Linked DNA regions of Homo sapiens: region 2 is linked to region 1. A link means that fine-mapping ties the variant in region 1 to the expression of a gene that starts in the linked region. Tissue or cell type: whole blood. Region 1 holds a variant in brackets; the other region holds the start of a gene. All regions are shown on one strand. Distances are between the middles of the regions.

Region 1 (10,420 bases):
TTTGATGATGAAAAGCAGGCAATGCAGTGGTAACTAAATCAGAAGAGGAAGCTACAACCTACAAATGCCTAGAGAGGGGAATACTAAAGAAAGGCAAGCATATCTAAAAACACAGGGGGCAAGGTACAAGGGGGCTGTTAGAAAATCTGAACATACAGGATGGTTACACCCTCAGGTCTCCTCTAACTAAATATCCATGAGACAACTTCCCTACCATGCCCACTAGCCTCTCGTAACACAAGAGGCCAGAGGATTACTGGAACAACTGAACCAGAGAGGCTCCAGACTCAGACCAGCATGGAACTAAGATCAAGGGTGAGGCACAAATCTAAAAGTGGAGATTAAGCAAAGTCTGCATACTCATAAGTGGGACACCTTTATCCTGCCTTGTTCCCCAAACATTATCAGCCAGGTAAGTAGCCTCAACAAGAGATTATAGAATTCCTCTCGGGAAAAAATGGACAGACCAGACCTACTCACACTTAGAAGACCATTAATCTCATTCCTGGGACTATCTAAATTCAGAGGTGAAGACTAATGGCAATTCTAAAATTCATGTTCTTTTCCCTGATTATGATTCAATTAGACACAAAATACTATACTTTTTTTTTAAAGGTCTTTAACCTTTAAGATGCTACCTGATTTTGAAATCACATATTAGAATAACTTCTGGGACAAAAATATTCCTTTTCCAGTCTTACTTTGACACCCTGGGGAAAGATGTTTAAGGAACAGAGGCTGAAGTTTTTCACACACCACTCTAAAGAAATGCAGAAAGAAACTGAAAAGCATTCAGAGTCTTACAATTTCTAGGTCCTGTTTCAAGTTTATCCCACAAAAGGGAAAGGAAAAAAACAAAATAGGTAGAATGCAAATCAATCATATATATTTGGTAAGAGCTAAGCTCTGCTGGAGAGGAAGTTCTTGGCTAATATTAAGTTAGGGAATTTTTCATTTATTCATATGATTCTTATATTTTACTACAGAAAAAGCAATCAGGCCAGGCATGGTGGCTCACACCTGTAATCCCAGCACTTTGGGAGGCTGAGGCAGGTGGATGATCTGAGGTCAGCAGTTCAAGACCAGCCTGGCCAACATGGTGAAAGCCCATCTCTACTAAAAACACAAATATTAGCTGGGCACAGTGGTGCGCATCCTACTCGGGAGGCTGAAGCAGAAGAATTGCTTGAATCCAGGAGGCGGAGGTTGTGGTGAGCCGAGATCATGTCACTGCACTCCAACCTGGGCAACAGAGCGAGACTCTGTCTCAAAAAAAAGAAAAAAGAAAAAACATAACCTTGAAAAAATTAAGTTATATATTTCCCACACCATTACTGATTACAAGTACTTCAAGCCAGGTGCAGTGGCTCAACACCTTGAATTCCAACACTTTTAGGAGGCTGAGGCATGAGGATCACATGAGTCTGAGAGCAGCCTGGGCAACACAGCAAGACCCTATCTCCAAAAAAAAAAAAAAAAAAAAAAAAAAAAGCTTTTAGTCAGCTGAGCATGGTGGCAAGCACCTGAAGTCCTAGCTACTCAGGAGGCTGAGGTGGAAGGATCATTTGAGCCCAGGAGTTCGAAGCTGCAGTGAGCCATGATCATACCACTGCACTCCAGCCTGGGCAAGAGAGGGAGACCCTGTCTCCAAAAAAAAAAAAAAAAAAAAAGTACTTCAAGCACATTCGTTCAGTGCAATGCAAGCTACTACCGTTTAGCATTACTTACAGAGATGCAGGATTTAATTAAATAACTCTGCTTAGCAAACTGCCTTGTAAGAGATCACTAGAAATAAATTTTTTCTTTTTTTTTTTTTTTCTCGAGACAGGGTCTCACTCTGTCACCCAGTTGGAGTGCAGTGGATCTCAGTTCACTGCTACCTCTGTCTCCCAGGATCAAAAAATCCTACCACTTCAGCCTCCCAAGCAGCTGGAACCACAGGTGCGCATCAACATGCCCAGCTAATTTTTTGTATTTTTGGTAGAGATGTGGTTTTGCCATGTTGTCCAGGCTGGTCTGGAACCCCTGAGCTTAAGCACTCTGCCTGCCTAGGTCTCCCCCAAAGCACTGGAATTACAGGTGTGAGCCACTGCCCCCAGCCTTATTTTTCCTTTTAAGTTATAAAAAATACCATGAGTGGGAAGGTGAAAGGGATCGTCCCATTTTAAATTAGGCACTGCTGTACTGTAAATTTTAAATTTTAAAAAAGATCAAGTTTTCAAAGTTTTTGCTCTTGGGACTCTTGAAAGTGGAGGACCATCCCCCCCGCAAAAAAACTTTATGTCGATTAAATCTATCAATATTTACTGTATTTGCAGTTAAAGCAGAAAACTTTAAAAGATTTGTCATTTAAAAAAAAATAATAGCTGGGCATGGTGTCTCACGCCGTAATCCTAACACTTTGGGAGGCCGAGGCAGGCGATCACTGGAGCCCCCGACTTCGAGACCAGCCTGGGCGACATGGCAAAGCCCATCTCAAAAAACAAATTAATTAATTAATCCATTACTTGTTAACATAAATCTCATATTTAAAAAATATTTTTAATAAAAATTAGAAGACTATCATGGTTTTACATTTTTGCAAATCTCTTTAACATCTAGCTTAATAAAGACATCTTGATTCTCACATCTACTTTTCCATTCAATCTGTGTATTAGATTGTTTTGGATGAAGAATATAAAGGAAATCTAGCCTTATGAAGCTCTATAGAGTTGGGAAAAAATAGAGTATTTTTATTAAAATGCTCTAGCCTTTTCAGATAACTTTCGATATTCTTTGATCCTTCACCAAAACACAACAAATGGCAGGTTCTTAAAGGCTGCTGCAACGCAGGAATCTGAAACCGTATCAATGAATATTTCCCACTCTGATAAACTGAAATTCATTGGTCTATCTTCCATTTCCAATGGATCTTTTTATCCAGGCATGATTTTGTAATATCATGCATTGGTTATTTGGAAAATATTAGTTCACTGAGTTATGCAGTTCTTCCAAATGTTGACATATTTCACTATGCAACTTCAACATAACACATTCATTAATATCACACTGATCTTATCAAAAAAGTCAAGTATTGGGAAACTGTCAAGCTCACAGTGGCAAATACATGTCTTCCAAAGTTCTATTTTCATTTGAAAGCTTAAATTTTATCATTAGTAACAAATATTGTCAGTTGTTTTCCCTGTAGTGACAGGCACACTTTGTTTATTTTCATGAAAATGTATGCCAAATACCCTAGTCTGTATAACCATACTTTGCCAGCCATTTTTTCAAGTAAAAATGGTATTCCATTTAAAAAGCTCACAACTCAACTGCACAAGTTCTTTTCCTTGAGTTAACCATCAGATTTGATATTCAATAAAAGTGTTTTACAGGTACTTTTCATTTCATCATACAAAATATATTTTTAAATGTACTCAAGGATTGAGATACAATAAAATTAGTAAGTTTTATTGCTTCATCAAGGACATAAAGTTTAACTGGCATTTTTTTTTTTAATTCCAAGTGCACAGTGATGAAGAACACAACTACTAGTACAATTTAGTACCAATGCCTTAATTTGTGCCAAGGTGCTGGCAGTTTTACCCACCACTGATTTTGCAAATGTCAGCACGTAAATAATGCCTATTATTAGGAAAATCATTTTGACCTGGAGAACCCTCAGAAAAACTTCGGGGAACCACCAGAGGCCTGAGAAATAGACTTTGAAAACCTCTGTAAGAACTGATGCATTACTTGTATAATTTTTAAAAAGATAATTTTTAGTAAACATTCCGCTATAACAGAAATATTTAAATAAATATACACACATATGTGATAATATATTAAAATCACCAATAACCTGGTACCTCATACACAGCAGATACCCAAAAATATAATAAATAACAGAATGTGATAAATAATTCTTTAATAAATAACAATTACTGAGAATCTACTATAAGCCAGTTTCTGAGCCAGTTCTGTGCCTCTTCAGTCCCCTTCTTGGGTAACTTACAGAAGCCCATAGACCAGAATGATGATTTTAACATATGAGAAAAAATATTTACTCTGAAATCTTTCCAATCTTTAAGATTAGACTTGCATGACTGCAAGAAAAAGTCTTAAAATTCACCATAAAGCACAAGATAGCATGTTAAGTTCTATTTTAAGCACTATGCCATGAGCTTTTTTAAAAACAGGCTTGCTCACATTCAGAAACCCAAATACAAAATGAATTGCTTTGGCTGAGCACTGCCAGAACTGCATAAAGACCCTGCATTCCATTTCTCCTCAAGCTATACAACCCTTACCTGTGATGTTTTCATTCCTATTGTTAAGTGAAACTCCAGCATTAATACTACAGAGGTTACATTAAATGTGGCAATTATTTTTTTAAAAAAACCAGTAGTGTATAGCAAAACCATCAAAACAAGTTGTTAAGAACTTTTAACCATATACACTGATAAATTCAAGAGGTAAATCTCTATAAACATACATAGGAAATATTACACACTGTTAAAAAGAATGAGACCATCTCATTGTCTGGACATGTCATGGAAAGATCTTCACTATCTATTGTAAAAAAAAGCAAACTGTAGGATGCTACATATGGTATGGTCTCACAGTTTTAGAAAAGATATTTATGTACATGTACATTCACTTAAGTTCCTTCTATGTGCCTAGTTTTGTTCTCATCTAGACATACACACACACAATAAATTAAAAATATTATACAGACATACACATTTAAATGCCCATGCAGAGAAAAAAATGAATACAAGACCAGACACAAAAAGTGACATATTTTTATTCCATTTATATTAAATGCCCAAAATAGGCAAGTCTACAGAGACTCAAAATAGATTATCAGTCGCCTAGGGCTAAGAGTGAGGTAAGGTTTGGGAAGGGGATGATGCTAAAAGGATGTAGGGTTGCTTTTCGAGGTGAAAAAATATTCTAGAACTGATTGTGGTTAATGGTTACACAACTTTGTGAATATACCAAAAACTACCTGACTGTGCACTTTAACGAGGTGAACTGTAATGGGATATGTTAATTTTATCTCAATAAAGCTGTCACCTCCCCCTGCCCACCCAAATAAGAATACACAGATATACACCAAAATGATTCCCTCTAAGAATGAAGATGATGAGGTCTTTCCATTTTTACCCTATTTACTGTTAGATCATTACAATGAGAAGTGTAGTCACTTATTATCTCTATAACTTAAAATAATGTAAAAGGTAAATCTAAAACAGCCCTTGATAAATTATTCTGGATTTAATGTTATTCAAGTTCATCTAAGCAGCAGCAAGAAAAAAGAGCGAAGATATGACCCTAAAAATATTTTCAATTTAGATTGTCTTATAGACAAGAGTATCAGGCCCCAGTCTCTGACAGAAACAAATCTTAAACATAATTTGTTCATCTGACACATGTATATTAAAAACACCTATTGTGTCCACAGGGTAGGGATGGGAGAATGGGGGGTGTACAAACAGAACACCAGCCAACAAAAAGACGCAAACTAACAGCTCTGGCTTTAAGTTAAGGGCTTTTGCTATACAGCTGAAGAGACAAAACACACACACAAAGTGGAATGGGGCCAGACAATAGAAAATCTTGAATACTAGACTGAGAACTAAGTCTTTATCCAGTTTTCGATAGAAAGCCATTCAAAGTTTTTATAGATAGGAGTGACAGAATGAAAGGAGTGTTTTGGTGAAATTAACCCGGCAACCAAAGCGGGTAAACTGAAAGCAGTGAATAGCAAAAAAGGTAAAAAAGAGATTAAGTTTTCAAAAATAGGAACGTTTACAACAGTCCTATGAGAGTTACTGATATCTCCATCATTAGTTAATATTCAAAGGATTTATGTTTGTTTTGTTTGCTTGATCTAAAGAAAAGCTGAAAAATAAAAAGGTGGTTTCTTCATTTTGACGAATTTTAGAAGTTCATAGCTAAGAATGAAGACTTACCAGAAAACTCTGAAGGAAGGGTTCTAGGGAATTTTCTTTTCATGTGACACTACTGAAACCAAGAGTAGAGGGAATCAAAAGTAACAGGAGTTGCACAATTTTTAACATGGAAGGGGAAATATAGTCATAAACATCTAGCAAAAAGTGCAGTGGCAATTAATACTACTTCTGAAATTGATGGTTAAAGACAACTAAGTACTTTAAAATTGTCTCTACTGCCTATTTCAAAGAAATCCTAATGATAAAACGTTACATAAATACAGATTTAGGTGAAGACCAAAGTCGAACGAATCAAATTTAGAGTACGATCAATTTCAAGTTCCTTCTACATGCACTACTTTTCAGATGTTGCACAAATAGCATTCTTAATTCACATATGCATTTATTAATTGGTTTAACTCATAAAGGTTTTTTCTAAAAATAAAAATGCTTTCATTGCCTATGTTATCTTTCTAAAACCAGATCCTGGGCCAGGCACGGTGGCTCACGCCTACAATCCCAGAACTTTGGGAGGCCAAGGCGGGCAGATTACGAGGTCAAGAGATAGAGACCAACCTGGCCAACATGGTGAAACCCTGTCTCTACTAAAAATACAAAA[A/G]TTAGCTGGGCGCAGTGGCGCATGCCTGTAATCCCAGCTACTCGGGAGGCTGAGGCAGGAGAATTGCCTGAACCCCGGAGGCAGAGATTGTGGATCCTTGAAACTATGTTACCTCCCAATTTAAATGGCAACACTTTGTTTTGAGATTAAAAATATGGTAAAGTCTTATTTCCATTTTCTCTATATTAATGTTCAGTATAGTGTTTGTTTTTTGGGGGATTTTTTGTTTGTTTGTTTTTGAGACGGAGTCTCACTCTGTCGCCCAGCCTGGAGTACAGTGGCACGGTCTCAGCTCTCTGTAACCTCCGCCTCCCAGGTTCAAGCAATTCTCCTGCCTCAGCCTCCTGAGTAGCTGAGATTACAGGTGCGCACCACCACGCCCGGCTAATTTTTGTATTTTTAGTAGAGATAGGGTTTCACCATGTTGGTCAGGCTGGTCTCGAACTCCTGACCTCGTGATCTGTCCACCTTGGCTCCCAAAGTGCTGGGATTACCACGTCTGGCAATGTTCAATATAGTTTTAAAATGCCAGTTAAAAACTGATAAGCATCAGCTGGGCGTGGTGGCTCACACCTGTAATCCCAGCAAAACAAAAAAAACTGATAAGCATCTAAATAAGGTACAAAAACTTGCAATATGTGGTCACTGTGATATAATTTCCAAAATCAAACATACTTGCCTACTTGAAATTCTACTATTCATAGAATAGTATGAATAGATTATAAAATACTACTTCATAATCGATTTCATACTTTATCAAACATTCTGATGCTGAAGTAATGTTTGCTTACATTTTGTAAAACCTGTATCTGCCATCATTTAATAATCTTATCTCACATATTACAGAAACATAAACAATAAAGGTATGACAATGAACAAACCAAGAATGACTAATTTATTTCACTGACAACATTTTAGCTAATTTTGTAGAGTGGGTGCAGTGGCACAGTACCTCACACCTGTAAAAACCGAGCACAGAGGCACAGTGTCTCACACCTGTAATCCCAACACTTTGGGAAACCGAGGCAGCACTGTTTGAGGCCAGGAATTTGAGACCAGCCTGGGCAACACAGTGAGACCCCTGACTCTACAAAAATAAAATAAACATTTGTATTGCTTTCTTTTTTTTTTTTTTTTTTTTTGTTTGAGACGGAATCTCACACTGTAGCCCAGGCTGGAGTCCGGTGGCGCAATCTCGCTGCAACCTCTGCCTCCCAGGTTCAAGCGATTCTCCTGCCTCAGCCTCCTGAGTAGCTGAGATTACAGGCGCCCACCACCACGCCCAGCTAATTTTTTGTATTTTTAGTAGAGACGGGGTTTCACTATCTTGGTCAGGCTGGTCTTCAACTCCTGACCTCGTGATCCGCCCACCTCAGCCTCCCAAGGTGCTGGTATTACAGGTGTGAGCCATGGCATCCGGTCCTGCATTGCTTTCTAAAGCACAAAAAAGATCTGTCATATCAATATATTTAGTTAAAATAAAACATCTGCAAACTTTGGTACATGTCTGCAAACACACTGCAAAAAAAGGAGAATAATCTGGGCCTGGCGCGGTGGTGGCTCACGCCTGTAATCTCAGCACTTTGGGAGGCCGAGACGGGCAAATCACAAGGTCAGGAGATCGAGACCATCCTGACCAACACGGTGAAACGCCGTCTCTACTAAAAACGTACAAAAAAATTAGCGGGGCGTAGTGGCGGGCACCTGTAGTCCCAGCTACACCGAAGGCTGAGGCAGGAGAATGGTGTTAACCCGGGAGGCGGAGCTTGCAGTGCGCCGAGATCGCGCCACTGCACTACTGCCTGGGCAACAGAGGAAGACTCCGTCTCAAAAAAAAAAAAAAAAAAAAAAGTAGAATAATCTGACAGGGACTAGTTTAATAAAACACAATGTAAGGTTTCAAATGATCATATAGACCTGTATTTACTAACCTGGATAGACATGAAAATAGCAGATTATAAATAAAAAACAGTGTTGTATCTTTTTATGATGAATATACATATACATATGCTCACAGAGAGAAAGTCTTAAGTGGATAAATACCCAGATGTTAACCATGATATCTCTGAGTGTTGGGATTACAGGTACTGTTTATTTTTCTGCTTACTTCTCAGATTCTCTGAAATTTTCTCAAGCAAAATGATACTTACAAAAATTAATGTGTATGATTCCAACTAACAAACTCCAAACTTTTTGCAAGGAAGCTTGCAAAATGCCCTAGAATATCCAAAAATACCCTAGCATAGAGCTTTTCCAAAAGGGAAAGTATCAGCAACAACATAAGTAGAAATCTGTGAACTGGGCACCCTAGAGGACTCCAGGTCTGCTGTAGGACCTTTAAGGAGGACTACACAAGACCTAGGCTCAAGTCCCTGCCACTTTTATTTGTATGACCTTGCAATAGTCACGTACCCTTTCTGGGCTCACTTTCTCTATCTATAAAAAGGATTTAGTTATTACTTGCCTTTCCTACCTCAAAGAACTGTTGGAAAGATCAAAAGAGATAATGCAATATATTATGAACTGCAAAGTACTATATAAGTAAGATATTATTATTCAAACATTAAAAAAGCAAGATGCTTCATGCCAGAGTCAAACACTTCAGAAAACACCACAATCAATTCTATGAAGTAATGAATCCGTTTTTGGTTGTTGTTTTGAAAGGCTACATCTCATCATAAACACCCAGTTTTTCTGAGACTTGGATACTTTTTCCCAGTTCCCGCTACAACCATTGGCCATTTTATTTTCTTATCCCTGGTTACCAGCAAAAAAGGGTACAAATTACACTAAACTCAAAAGCCTCAGCAAGAACCCTGGAGCAGCATGCTGATGGAGTTCACCAGGAGACACCCAAGGTTAATCAGCTATGGACTCGCCACTAAGCACTACCGCAATCAACAGGGATTACAAGAAACTCTTTGAAGAAAAAGACAATGGGATCGCCCAGGAGAAAACGGTGGATGAAAAGAAGGAGGTATTTCAAAACAATCATATGAAATACTTAGAAACTATACGTAGTATTTTATAAACTATACTGTAGAGTTTTTAAAATACTGTTGATAAAAATAATGACATAAAACAAAAGCCATCTAAATGTGGCACTTGACAAAAGCAAGTTATAGAGATTCAAATCAAATCCATGAATAAACTATCAGATGTACTTGACTCTATCTGAAATAAAAGCAGACAAATTACAGCGTAAGGATCAAAATTAAGTAGCTATTTCTTGAAAATAAAGAGGCAGAAAATAACAATAGAATTCACTGACACACTCATAGTAACTTTTATAATTATGGTTTCTCTTCCCATTTAATTTCATTATTTACTCCACTAAAATGCTGATGGACTTCTTCTCTCCCACTCTTCTTCCTGTAAATTAAAATGGCACTATAACTTGGTTTGAGTTTTACTCCAAAAAAACACATATTTTTTTTTAAATTACTTTAAGAGGAGTTTCATGAAGCTGTCAGCTTATTAACTACCAAGATCATCTGGCCATCACACCCTCCTGCTTCTAAGTTCCTAAAGATGACAAAATACCCTCCACATTCTTAAAAATGACATTTATGGGTACTCCCCTAATGAAAAATTAAACCTTTCATAAACAAATGTGCATAGAGAATTCATTTTGATATGTATGACTCACAATCTAATTTTTATTGGCAATATCTTGAAGTGTTGCAGCTTGCACAATTCCTACAGGGGATAAAGATCTATCTGTTTTTCCCATCTGATCTTTGCACATTTCTTATAGATTTAAAAGGACTCACTAAAAAAGCCATGAGGAAAATAATTATGAATACAATCCACAGCAAAATGAAGTATGGGGCTGAAACCTAAAATAATGAAAAGTCACTGAGTT
Region 2 (5,000 bases), 140 kb before region 1:
ACTGCGGCACGCGCTTCGGGCAGCCTAGCCACAGGCTTTGAGCGCCTGCATTCCTGGGGGCTGGAGGGTGGGGTGCCAAAGGCCCTGAGCAAAAGCCAGAGCTCCTCTCATCAAAGCCTTTACAAGGTGCTGGGCCCAGAGGCTTTGCCTTGACAGAGTGGCCCAGGGTTTCAAGGGAGGAGGAACCTCCCCCTACCTAGGACCCTTCCTGTGGGGGGTCTACAGAGTCAGGGACAGAAGGGAAGGGACCCACAGGAAGTCACAGTGGTGCCCAGGGATGTGTCAGCCCCCAGCCACGGGGACGCGGGATTCAAGAATGAAGTAAATACAGTCACAGCCCCAAGTGGTGTTAGAGGTGTTTTTTGTCTTTTCTCCCTTTCGTGCTGAGGTGTAGCACACACGGTGCGCCCTACAGCATGGTGAGTTGCTGTATCGTGAACCCTCACGCAGCCATTGCCCCACGCTGGTGTTTTCCATCTGTGCGTCACCCCCGGAGACACCTACACACATAAGGAGGGAGTTGGCCGGGGCACCCCAGCACACACTGGCCTAACTCCAAGGAGGCACCTCATCTCTTCTGGAGCCCCTTCCCACAGGCAAGGGGATTCAGAGGGAGCATGTTGGCCTGGCCGCCTTCAGGCTTCCAGAGTCCCAAGTGACTTTCCTTGATGTCCTTCTCTCCATCCTCTGCACAGAGGCAGCCTTCCCTCCTCTTATCCCTGCCATGGGGTTTGGGAGGGGGAGCCTCAAACTCTGACAGGGAGGAGTCGGAGTCCCCAGCTAAAATTCTCTGGGTCTAGAAACAGGTGTAAAGCGATTCTGGGGATGTGATTTGGGAGAAAAGCACACTTTCCACACAGAGGCGGTCAGGAAAGGAGCGGGGAGGGGAGAGTGGGGCACAGGCAGCGCCTCCCGTCTATGCGCCTGTGTGCAAAGTGGCACAATGCCCCCCTTCCTATTGGCAGTGCAGCCCCTGGCCAGCAACCACTCGCACCTGGGCTGGGGGCCTTTGTGTAGGGCACACCTGTGCAGCCACACCTACTTGTAGAGCCTCATAGACTCAGCTGTGGACAAAAGCCTCACGCCCCAAACAGGGAAATGGGATCTCAAGGGGAAGAAGCTGGGGAGGCCTCACACCCTGCCCCCATTTCCTCCTATGTGGGGGAGGGGAGCAGCACGAACTCCTGAAGACTTGGGAGCGTCAGCAGCTTCTGCGGAAGGGGTGGGGCTGAGGGTGGAGAGAGGAAGGGAAGGAAGAAAAGGGGAGCCTTCCTGGCCAGGGTAACCGGCACTAAGAGGCCTCACTCCAAGCCCCCGAGGAGCCTGTGGTGGGGCTGGAGACCCGGCTCAGGCCCCTCCACCACCCTTAAAGTCCTCAGAAGGTGGGAACTGAACTGGCACAGGATGGGAACCGGCTGTGCGCTGGCCACTTGATTTTGCCAGCTGCCCTGTAATTCAGCTGGTGAGGAAACTGAGGCACAGACTGAGGTAGAATGATTCGCCAGTCACTCAGCAAGTCAGCAGACGGGGAGGACTGAATCCCAGCCTGAGAGCACCGAAGCTTGTATCCCTGCAATACCGAGCCCCAAGCCTGCGAGCCCCGGTGCCCATCTCTGAGTTAGGCCGTCTTGGAAGGGTTCCCTTCCTCCTACAAGATGGTGTGTGAGGAGCCTTCAATACGACCCGGGGTGTAAAGTGTCCAACTCTAGTAGGGGCCTGATGGCATCCCCGCCGAGTCCCAGGAGAGAGAGAGAAGACCCCTTCCTGGAGTCCAGGGCTCCCGGGAAGAAACACTGGCATTTGTCCCTTTGCTTCGGCTTCTGGAGGCAGAGACTCTGAGCCCAGGGAGAGCCTTCTGCAGCCCCATTTCCTCAAAAATCCAACCTGCCCAGGTGGCGGGTCATGAGCTGTGCTCAGGAAGCTGGAATCTGACCCTGGTGGCGTCGGGCCCAGTCTCCATGGCAGCCGAGCATTTATTACCCGGGCCTCCACCCAGCTTGGCAGACTTTAGACTTGAGGCTGGAGGAAAGGGAACTGAACGCGGTTCTGGGAGCAGCAAGCCCACGGGTAGCAGCCGAGGCCCCAGAATGGTGAGTGTGAGGGTCTGTGTCGGCCTGGCCAGGGCTGGGGGCGTGAACCTCAGGTGGAGCCCTCCCCTGACTGTTTTCCTTTCTCTGCTGCAGGCCAAGTTTCTTTCCCAAGACCAAATTAATGGTAGGTTGGGTTTGTTCTTTGATTAGCAACTCAGCAAAATATGGGTCTCATTAGGCAATTTGCTCTGCTCATGTTTTCTTGGTGGGAAGGAAGGTGGCTGTGGGAGAGCTGGGCCCACCCAGGGCCAAGAGCTGCGGGGAGGCTGCTGTTGGCGGGGTGGGGGTTGGGGGTAAGCCTCCAAAATAGACATGTGGCTTTATACTTGTCAGTGTGACTTACAAGCCAGGGCGCTAAGACAGAACTTACTAGGTTTCCCTCCAGAACCTGACCAGTTGGATTTGGGGACTGAGGGGACTGGGGATGGAGAGAGAGACCATTAAAGGTATGGCTGGCAGCAGGGAAAGAGGAGGGGCTTTGTAATTGAGACAGAACAGAGGCCAGGTCTGCACTCTCTGGCAGGATGCGTCTACTCTCTGCGCCTCAGTCTCCCTATCTGTAAAATGGAGGGTCCACTGAGCCCCCTTTGCCCTGGCATCAAGCCTGGTTTGGGCGTGAGCACTTTATTCCCTGGGTCCCCTACTCTGCCAGCCCTCGACCAGGCTTCAGTTTCACACCGTGCAGGGTTCTATTTCCAGAAGGCCAAGAGCAAAGAGTTGCGTTACAAAGAACTTGGGGGCCCAGACCTGAGCCAGGGGAGCCTCATGGCTGCAGCCCCCCTGCACCTGGCAGGAGAGGCCCAGGAGGCACAGCCAGCTGCTGCTTGAGGTTGTGACCCTGAAACCTGTCCCAACAGTGGACGTCAATGGGCCTGAGAGTCCCCCGAGGCATCCCATTCCTCCAGGTCTTTGCTGAAACATCGCCTTCTCAGTGAGTCCTTCGCTGACCACTGGAGATAAAATTACAGGCACCTTGGGCCCTTGTGATCCAGGGTAGGGTCCTGAGAGCCCAGCCAAGTGGGGTTAGGGTTACCTGGGCAGGAGTTCCAGAGTTCTGGGTATTCTGAGCTTGGTCCAGAGGGGCAGGAATTGTGAGCTCCAGGTGGGCACCTCCACGTAGAACCCTGGAACTCTTTATCCCAAGAGGAGGGCCAGGGCAGGAGCAGGGACTTTTAAAACACAGGGCCCGGGGCAGTGCCCTCTTGTCCAGGTCTAACGGTGATAATGAATGGTGGACTGAGGGCTGGAGTCCAGCCTTCAGCCTCAGCATCCTCCCACCCATGCCTGGTTTTGAGGCTCACTGACCCTCCCTCCTGGGATAGCCAAAGCTCCCAGAAGGGAAGAAGGTAAATTGTCTTTGTATCCCAGTATCTGACACCAAGAAAGTGGCCACCAGTGTTTAATGAGTGTGTGAAAGACTGGATGGGGTGGCCTAGCGAAGTGGGAAGAACAGGGGCTTTGGAGGCAGCAGACCTGAAGCCTAATCACCCTTGAGCCTCGGTTTTCTCACCTATGAAGTAGGATATGCCACCTTACCAGGCTGCTGCGAGCCACGGACAGAGGGGAATAATGTCAGTTACATGCTGGACGCTGGGCCAGGCATAGCCAGGTGTCACCCACATGTGGGCTGGGGCTGGCTCACTACAGCTAGCAAGAGCCATAGTTTTAGGAATTTTGCAAGCAGGATGTTAAAGCCAGCCATTATTAAATAATGTAGGATCAAACAGTGTTTCAATCCCTACATCTATCTGTACAAAAAGTTAAAAAGACAGCCCTATTGTGATCAGTGGAGATGGAGATTTGAAAGAAGTTTCAATTTAATGAATGTGTTTGGTAAAAGGGTGAGAAATAGTTTAACAGTAGATCACATCAGGTTTAATGACCATTCATTCATTGGAAAAAGAATCGCACTCATTGGCGCGCAGCTTCATTTGTCAAATCATGGTTGAATCGAAACTATAGGTTGGCAATGGATATAAGAGTTGGCAAAACTTGGGCTGAGTGCAGTGGCTCACGTCTGTAATCCCAGCACTTTGGGAGGCCGAGGCATGTGGATCACCTGATGTCAGGGGTTTGAAACCAGCCTGGCCAACATGGTGAAACCCCATCTCTACTAAAAATACAAAACTGGCCAGGTGCAGTTGGCTCATGCCTGTAATCCCAGCACTTTGAGAGACCGAGGGAGGCAGATCACCTGAGGTCAGGAGTTTGAGACCAGCCTGGCCAACATGGTGAAACCCTATCTCTACTAAAAGTACAAAAATTAGCCTGGTGTGCTGGCAGGCACCTGTAATTCCAGCTACTCAGGAGGCTGAGGCAGGAGAATCACTTGAACCCAGGAGGCGGAGGTTGCAGTGAACCGAGATTGAGCCACTACACTCCAGCCTGGGCAACAAGAGCGAGACTCTGTCTCAAAAAAAAAAAAAAAAAAAAAAAAGCCGGTCATGGTGGCACATGCCTATAATCCCAGCTTCTTGGGAGGCTGAGGCAGGAGAATCACTTGAACCTGGGAGGTGGAGGCTGCAGTGAGCTGAAATTGTGCCATTGCACTCTAGCCTGGGCAACAAGAGCAAAACTCTCTCAAAAAAAAAAAAAAAAAAAGTTGGCAAAACTCATTTGTGGTAATCAAGTGGCTAGATGGAATTTATTTATTTGAGACAGAGTCTTGCTCTGTGCAATGGCATGATCTCCGCTCATTTCAACCTTCACCACCCAGACTCAAGGGATTCTCCCACCTCTGTCTCCTGAGTAGCTGGGACTACAGGCATGCACCACCACACACAAAACATTTGTAAATATTTTGTAGACATGAGGTCTTACTATATTGTCCAGGCTGGTCTCGAACTCCTGGGCCCAAGCGATACTCCTGTCTCACCCTCCCAAAGTGCTGGGATTACAGGCGTGAGCCAC

What was found. PIP is the estimated chance that this variant, and not a neighbour inherited with it, causes the effect.
Region 2: it holds the start of CALML4, and the variant in region 1 is fine-mapped to the expression of CALML4 in whole blood (TOPMed, PIP 0.98).

Annotation. Positions count from the first base shown.
Region 1 is chr15:68,056,987-68,067,406 of GRCh38, reverse strand. All of the region lies in intron 1 of PIAS1 (protein inhibitor of activated STAT 1), which reads right to left. Among named protein-coding and RNA genes, the nearest start is that of PIAS1, 7.9 kb to the right of the region's middle. The variant A/G (reference allele first, on the strand shown) is at 6,556.
Region 2 is chr15:68,202,335-68,207,334 of GRCh38, reverse strand. CALML4 (calmodulin like 4) reads left to right here and starts at 2,003. Exons shown (of 5, transcript NM_033429.3): 1 at 2,003-2,090; 2 at 2,184-2,214. The coding sequence starts at 2,088. It overlaps CLN6 (CLN6 transmembrane ER protein), which reads left to right. Exons shown (of 7, transcript NM_017882.3): 7 at 1-343. RefSeq lists an enhancer at 1,010-1,304.